Linked DNA regions of Homo sapiens. The protein of the gene in region 2 purifies or fractionates together with the protein of the main gene of each other region. This does not show direct contact. Each region holds a gene or a part of one and is shown on either strand. Other genes may lie near its edges.

Region 1 (3,808 bases), on a different chromosome or scaffold from region 2:
CCATGAGATGCAGCTGCCAGGGAGATGTGGAGACGCCCCATACAGCAGCATAGGGGTTGCAAGCAGCAGCCCCACTAAAAGCCCGCACTGGGAGTCAGAACATCAGGGACAGGCTGCACAGACAGGGTAGGAGGGGACAGCCCCGCCGCCGCCAGCAGGCCCTCCCCAGCCACGCAGAAGCACGCAGGGATCCACTGTGCTTAAGGGGGGACAGAGGGTTTTCTTGCAAGTAATTGACTCTGGAATTCTGAAGGAGGCCGTGGGGGGCCTGGACTTACCCCTGGTCCCACAGGTGAGTTCTGCGGGGCAGCGAGAACTCGAGGTACTGGCGCTGGCGGGCCTGGGAGGAAGCACAGTGGGGTAGGAGAGGGAATGTGTCAGCCTGTGTTGGGGGCAGTGGGCCCCTGAACCCCCACGCAGTCAGGTCTCCACAGGCCTCACCACCTTGTCTGTAACAGGGGCAGCCGCTGGTTACCGTTCAGGGGCAACAGCAGCAAGGGTGCCACCCAAAAGTGTCGCTGTCTATCTAGAGCCCTGGCATGCACCAGCAGCCAGGAGAGGGGGTACAGCTGGCCTCGTCCTCACTGTTCTTCCTGGGCCAGCAGGTCTCACAGCTTGGGGTGCTTGGAGCTCCCTAACACGCTTCTCCTCACTAGTCATCTTTGCATCTTCCCTGCCCGGAAGAGCTGGGGTCTGAGGTTGCCCCAGTCTTGCAGCTCCCTGACTCCGGCTGTTTTGTTAACCGAGAAGCTCCTGAGCAGACACTGCCAACCTGGCTTGCGGCCTCACGAACACCCACTAAGCACAAGCTGTCCGCCAGGTCCTGCTGAGGATTCTCCATGCAGGCCCGGTAACACTGGGAGGCGCACCTGGGGGAGGCAAGGCCAGCCCTTCATGGGGTCCCCCTGGAGCCAGGGACTGAGAACTGCCTTGGCCCTTTATAAGGCCACAGCTGCCTCCCAAGCATCCAGGGGCTGCCTAAAGAGCCAGCAGCCTCCTCCCAGGGCCACCTGTACCTGCCCAGCCCCGCCTCAGCCCAGCTGGCATTTGTGCTGCTTCTGCAACCCCTCCCCAGGCCACATGGACACCTCATGGCCCAGCAGACCCAGGGCTCTCAGCCCCTGCACCTCAGCAGGAGGAAGCCCCAGCATCGCTGGAGTCTCTGAAACCCACCAGGCTCCTGCCACAGCGGTGCTGGAGCGTCCATAGCCACTCGTCTCTTACGGTCATTTCACATACACTGCCATTTGCCTTTGCCCACCATGAAACCACCAAGCCAGACCCCAAGCCCATCCTGACGGGGCCACCTCTGCCCACTCAGAGGCCAGGGTGGGAGCCCTGCACACTGAGTCATCTGCCTGGCTTCCCTGAGGCCCACAGCCCAGTCTCCAGCCCATGTCCTGTCCCCACCTGGCTCATGACAGCCTCCTTCACGGTGACAGGACTCTCCACTGCAGCAGACACTACCACTCCCCATCGGACTTCCAGGATAACCCAGACCTCCGGAGAAATCAGGCTTCCCCCATGGCCCTGTCCCACCTCCCGTCACCCCCATGTGGCCCACATCTTGGGCCCAGCAGCTCGCCTTCCCTCCCTCTCCTGTGGCCTCTGCTGCCATGAAGGTTGGGCAAACGAATCTCCTATATGTCCTGGTATCCTGAATTCCTATGGCACAGAGCACAGGCCGGCACTTACGGGACCTACGGACCAAGCACACAGCACAGAGGCCTGTGACGTCAAACGCTGGGCACTCTGGATAGAGACTGCTCAGCCACTTCGTGTTCCGCTCTGAATCCCAAAAAAACAAAAACAACAAGGAAAATGCTGTCGACCAAGGAGAAACCAAATCCAGAAAGTGCCGCCCTAACACCAGAGCTGCACGACCATCGGAGCCAATCCCCGCCGTGCCTCTCCCAGCAGCTTCCAGAACCCATCCAAGGAGGTGCTTCCCCAGCTGCAGGATCTGGTGGAAACCCTGCTAAGGGCCTGTGGATGGGTGGAAGGCATTGGGGCAAGGCCAGAGGGAGCCCCCAACCCTCAGAGGATCCAACTGCCCAGCCTGGCGGGCACAGCTCCCAGTCCAACTACCTCCTGGGCAGCGCCCATTTGGCCCGCGCAGCTCCTCTGTAACCAGCCACAGTAACGTGGCTCCAAGGAGCACAAAGACTCTGGTCAGAGGAACCTGCCCTTCTATAAATGAGCTCACGTGCTCGGAGGGAGTTAGCAAATGATCTAGCAAGCTCTGCTTCCCCAGGAAAATATCATCTCACTAAAAGCAAAATGCAGATGAGGATTCTGCAGGGGCCCAGCTGTCCTCAAAGCCGATGCCTCTCCCCAGATTCCCTGAGTGCCTCTTACAGTCCATTTCAGAGCTCCGTACGGCAAACCCCTGCCCACCTCCTCCCAGAAAAAGCCTGAAAGATGACACAGCAGAGTGGTAAGTGAAGCTCCACGCCGTTCCTCCGTAAATGGGAACTCGGAAAACTCCGCAGGCTGATTTTGATAATGAGGACAAATTGCCAGAAATGGCTCCATTATCTTCAGCAGAGACAGCGGGCACTCGGGGGCCAGCCCTCCGTGCCTGTGTGCGTCCTCTTGGGGAGGAAAAGCTGGATGAAAAGTTAAACCTTCCAAGCACATCTGAACTTCTCGCATGCATTTTATTTCCCCATCGTCTCAAATTTGCATACAGTGTGGAAAGTTTTTTCAAGTAACTCTTTATATCATGACTTATGCAATTTTTTCTTCCAAGAGAGTAAACCTACCTACAAGGCCATTTAAAAAGGCCATTAAAGGTGGCCATTTAAAAAGATACCTGGTGGGAAGCCCAGACCCCCAGGGCCCAAAACTCAGATCCAACCGGTGAAGCAGAGCAGGAAGAGACACACCAAGGCCACGAAATAACTCAGTTTCGAATCTCTTTGTTTTAATGTTCGATGTGGTTATGGGTTAAGGTGCTTCCCAAACTATACTCATAGTCCTGCCCAGAGGACAGCGCGGCCGCCAGGGAGCACCCGCTGTACTCCAGGCCCCAGGAGTCTTCCAAAAACCACGGTGGAGTCTGGGAAGCCTGACTTCCGCCACATAACAGGACTTGGCTGACAAGCACCTGGGCCAGCAACTGAACCGGGAGCAGCATGCGTGTGCACAGGACACAGGTAGGAGCAGCTGCGGTGAGCAGACAGACGAGCACAAGGCTGTCTGGGGCAGCGCTGCGACAACAGCAAAACATTAGACACAATCCTGGTGCTCCTGCAAATGGAAGCTACCTCAGCAGAACCCGGCAGATCCTGCGTGGGGCAGGGGAGCAATGGGATGGGAGGAGACCAGCCGGTGTGTGCAGAACTGGGAAGGCAGCCGCGGCAAGTTAAAAAGTGACGATAGGCCGGGCACGGTGGCTCACGCCTGTAATCCCAGCACTTTGGGAGGCCGAGGCGGGTGGATCACAAGGTCAGGAGATCGAGACCATCCTGGCTAACACGGTGAAACCCCATCTCTACTAAAAATACAAAAAATTAGCCGGGTATGGTGGTGGGCACCTGTAGTCCCAGCTACTCAGGAGGCTGAGGCAGGAGAATGGCGTGAACCCGGGAGGCGGAGCTTTCGGTGAGCCGAGATCGCGCCACTGCACTCCAGCCTGGGCAACACAGTGAGACTCCGTCTCAAAAAAAAAAAAAAAAAAGAAAAAAGAAAAAAGAAAAATGAAAGAAACCCACAGTGTATACGGGTGTGCTGGCAAACTCGTGGTAACCACACCCATGAGACATGCTAGGAAACGCGTATTCCTACATTGCCCATAAAACTTAAA
Region 2 (3,808 bases):
TCCGCACCAAGAAACTTCAGGTGAATTAGAATTCAGTTGAATCAGCATTGTTTGAGCTCCTGCTGTGTGCTAGTTGTAGTGACTGTAAGATGAAGGAGGGTCAATTTGAGAGAGATGAATGAACAGACCAAAGCCCGTCAGGATGAATTATACAAAGCTCAGTATGTAAACAAATCAGTTGAGAGGGGCTGGTGGGGGAATTGGGACAGGAGAGAGAAGTCCCAATTTGGGGTCTTGCTGCATCTGGAGTTGGTGAGATGCCCTCTGGGCAGGAGGTGCCCCTCAGCAGGAAGGCTGCAAATTAGGGGAGGAGCTGAAGGGGCTCTGCCAGCTGCATCTACAACTCCATCAGCCAACCAAGCCAAGCAGCCCTTCCTTTAGGCTCTGACCAAATAGTTTTGAGGGCAGTACTTGGCTATGGGTGTTAAAAATGGATCATTCAAGTTCCAGATCATCTGATAAGTCATTTTCTTCAAATAGCTCAAATTCTGCATCTTTGTCCACGTTGGCAGGTTTCTCGTTTTTGGGCCACTCAAACCTATCTCTTAAGGAAAAGGGGAGTAGAGTGACATGTCCTGTAGTTTGAGAGGAGTGGTGGTAGGGTTGCTGATGAGGAGAGCAGCCACAGGCTGGGTTGTTGGCCCCTAGATTCTGATGTCAGCAGGCTTCCTGGAATGTGTTTGGTAGGACCCAAACAGTGGCAACCAGTGAGGACTGGAAATGTGGCAAAGAAGGCTTAGCAGGGCTGGGACAGAGGTGGGATGGGATTGGGAGATTATAGTTCTTGCTGGTGTGAGGGTAAACTTTGCAGTTCTCTTGCTCAGTCTTCCTCCTTTGATTGGTGGCCTGCACAGTGCAGCAGAATGGCATGAAATTGAGACTCAACAGTTCTGGGAGCTAGTGTGGCTCTGTCACCATTTCACTATGTGACCTTGGACAAGTCTTTTCCCAAGTCTAGGCACAGTTTCCTTCTCTGTGACAAGGAGTTGCCATCCCCCACCAGGCCTGAGTAATGGGTGGCTGAGGAGGGCAAATGGGGGGGTATGGGAGTAGGGAGTGCTTTATAAAGTGGTAAATACCCTGAGGGTGAAGGATATCTGTTGATTTGCATTTCCTTTGATGTTGGTACTTTTAGCTGAGTTTGACCTGGGCTAGAGAACCTGGCTAGTTGAAAGTCCCAGATAATCCTTGGCTGCTAGCCAGTAGCTGACTCTTTTAGGTCCCTGAATATCAAAAGTTGGCTAAATGAGCAAGTAAAGCCTCCTATGACATGACCACACAGTTATCTTCATTTACCATTTGCCATTTGGGAAAACTGAGCCCCAAGGAGGTTTGGTGACTTACCCACAGAGCCCTAGGGAGCACCCTACTCAACCTGACTGAGATGATTTTACTTCTAGAAATTGTTCTACCACAGTTTGAATAAAATATGAATAAAAGTTGGTTACTATAATGTTTTTAGCTTCTGCTATGTAATGCACTTGATTTGGTACATTATGTGCATTGGTTTTACTTCTTACAATAGCCTTAAGAGGTAGGCACTCTCAATGACCTCATTTTACAGTTAAGGAAATTGAGGCATAAACATGGGAAAAAACTTGCTGGATTTCCCCTAGCTGGGCAGAGTTGATTCCAGCGCTGAAATGGCCAGCTCTCTGGAGGGCCATCCTCACCATTTTTTCTTTAACCAACCCTCCCCAACATACAGAAGGGCAGGTGGGCCTGAAGTGGGCTTGCTTTCAGGAAGACTGTTTGGAACAGGCCTGAGGAACTATGGCTGGTCAAGGCCATGTCTCTGGAGCTACTGCATAAATCCACTTGCTTCTTTTTCTTCCCCCAATTCAGCCCTCTTCAAGTTGGCCATGCTGGCCCCGGGAAGCTGATTTGGAGCAGAATGTGCAAGGCTCATATTGCAGCTGTCCCTTCTCCTTGAGAAGGGTCTCTAGGGCAGGTATGTGGCTGGCCTCCTGCCTATGTTTTAAGTGGAGAGGAGAAGGAAGAAGCTCTTCCTTTGTAGCCAGCCTTCCACTGGCCCCAGAATGGCTTGAATCTGGCTCAGGGAGCTGGAATGGCCCCAGCGCTTTCTACCACAGCCTGCTTTCTGCCATGATAGCAGCTGCTGCAGCAGGCAGTCCCTGCAAGGGACCACAGAGTGGCTTGGGAGGGTTCTCTTAACCCCCAGCCCACCTGAAACTCAGCCACACTGGTTAAGGAACATGAGGGTTGTGGGGCCCTGCATTTGGCAGTGCCACTTTCTTGACAGGACCCCCAGGGAAAGCCAGTCCCAGCCTAGGGGATCTGCAGAGTCTGTCCTTTGCTGTCTCCTTTGCTTTCTGCCCCACCTCACTCTCTTGGTGAACTCTTGTGGTCCTAAGTAAAGGCAGCATAACCCATTGAGGAAGGATAGCTTTGGCACCTGGTTGGATAGCAAAGAGTATGGAGAAGAGGCCTAAGGCAGAGGTAGCTAGGTGGGGCTACGCTAGGGAGCTACCAGCTATGGGTGACCCTGCCACCTTCCTTCCCAGTGTTCTGGGTGACATAGGCAGAGATACTGTGAATGACTGTGGGGGGACATGGCTCTGGGAGAGAGAACACAGAGTACCAGTTTAAGGCTGGTATCTGCCAGCAAAGATGACTCTGGACTTGGTTAGGAGAAGGGCCTGAACTGGACGGAGAGAAACTCCATCCCAGGGACACCCTGCGTAATTCATCTGTCTCCCACAACACACAGAGAGGGCTTTTCAAACCTCTTAGCAGAGGAGTTTGTATAGATATACACACCTTTTTAAAATCCCCTCATATCTGTCTCCCTCTCAGCATGGGCCAAGGCAGCAAGTCCCTGAGCTTCCCACAGTGAATGGCTTTCCCAAATGAACAGCCTTTAACACATGGTCAGTTGCTTCCTAAGAAACTGGGATCTGACCTGGAAGGAGTAATAATAACTGTAATGACAGTCTTTCTCATTTGCACTGTACTATACAGTTTATAAAGTGCTTTTTTTGTGCCTATTATCACATCAACTCATCACACCACTGTAGTTGGAGTGGGCAGGTAGAAGGATAGGTAGAGGAGCTGTTTTGATCTCAAAATAGCTCACAAGTACCTGCGTCTCAGCAGGCTACACTGGCCCATTCAGGGTCCCTTGGCAGATGGGAGGCTGACATGGCCTGGACCCCAGCCCTGTGGTCCATGGCTCCTTCCACAACACACTGCAGCTCCCTGTGACAGGAAAGGGGACAATACAGAGAGAGGTGAGTGGGCTGGCCTCTACCCTCACAGAGCATAGGAGCAAGGGCAAGGGAAAGCCCAAAGAGACTGTCTTCTAACTGGGGCGTCAAGGCTCTGGAAAGCAGCCTTCTTTGTGATTCAATTTGCCAAATCACTCTGTTCCCAGGAACTCCAGCCCCAAACCCAGCAGGACAAGTCAGCCTTTGATTCACAAGGATGTGTAGGTCCTAGAGTTTTTCACTTGGCTGTGAGGTTTTCCTTGAGGCCCAGCCTTACTGCCCAAGAAGTGTCTTTCTCCCTTTCACATTTATCTTGGAATATGTTTACAAGGTATAAAGAATGATACTCCACCAACCAGCTTTAGAAATAACAGGGGCTATTCTTTAAGGCAGCGGTTCCCAACCTTTTTGGAACCAGGGACCTGTTTCATGGAAGACAATTTTTCCATGGATGGAGAGGAGGAAGGTTTTGGGATAAAAGTGTTCCATCTCAGATCATCAGGCATTTGTTAGATTCTCATAAGGAGAGTGCACCCTAGATCCTTCGCATGCGCAGTTTGCAATAGGGTTCACGCTCCTAT

What was found.
Region 1: the proteins of AMER1 (region 2) and NPHP4 purify together in Homo sapiens (co-immunoprecipitation; one large-scale study listed by IntAct). This does not show direct contact.

What each region holds. Positions count from the first base shown.
Region 1 is NC_000001.11:5,908,874-5,912,681, forward strand, and holds part of NPHP4 (nephrocystin-4), read right to left. Parts: intron 341-3,808; coding exon 279-340; intron 1-278. UniProt on the Homo sapiens protein: Involved in the organization of apical junctions; the function is proposed to implicate a NPHP1-4-8 module. Does not seem to be strictly required for ciliogenesis. Required for building functional cilia.
Region 2 is NC_000023.11:64,195,584-64,199,391, reverse strand, and holds part of AMER1 (APC membrane recruitment protein 1), read left to right. Parts: intron 1-3,808. UniProt on the Homo sapiens protein: Regulator of the canonical Wnt signaling pathway.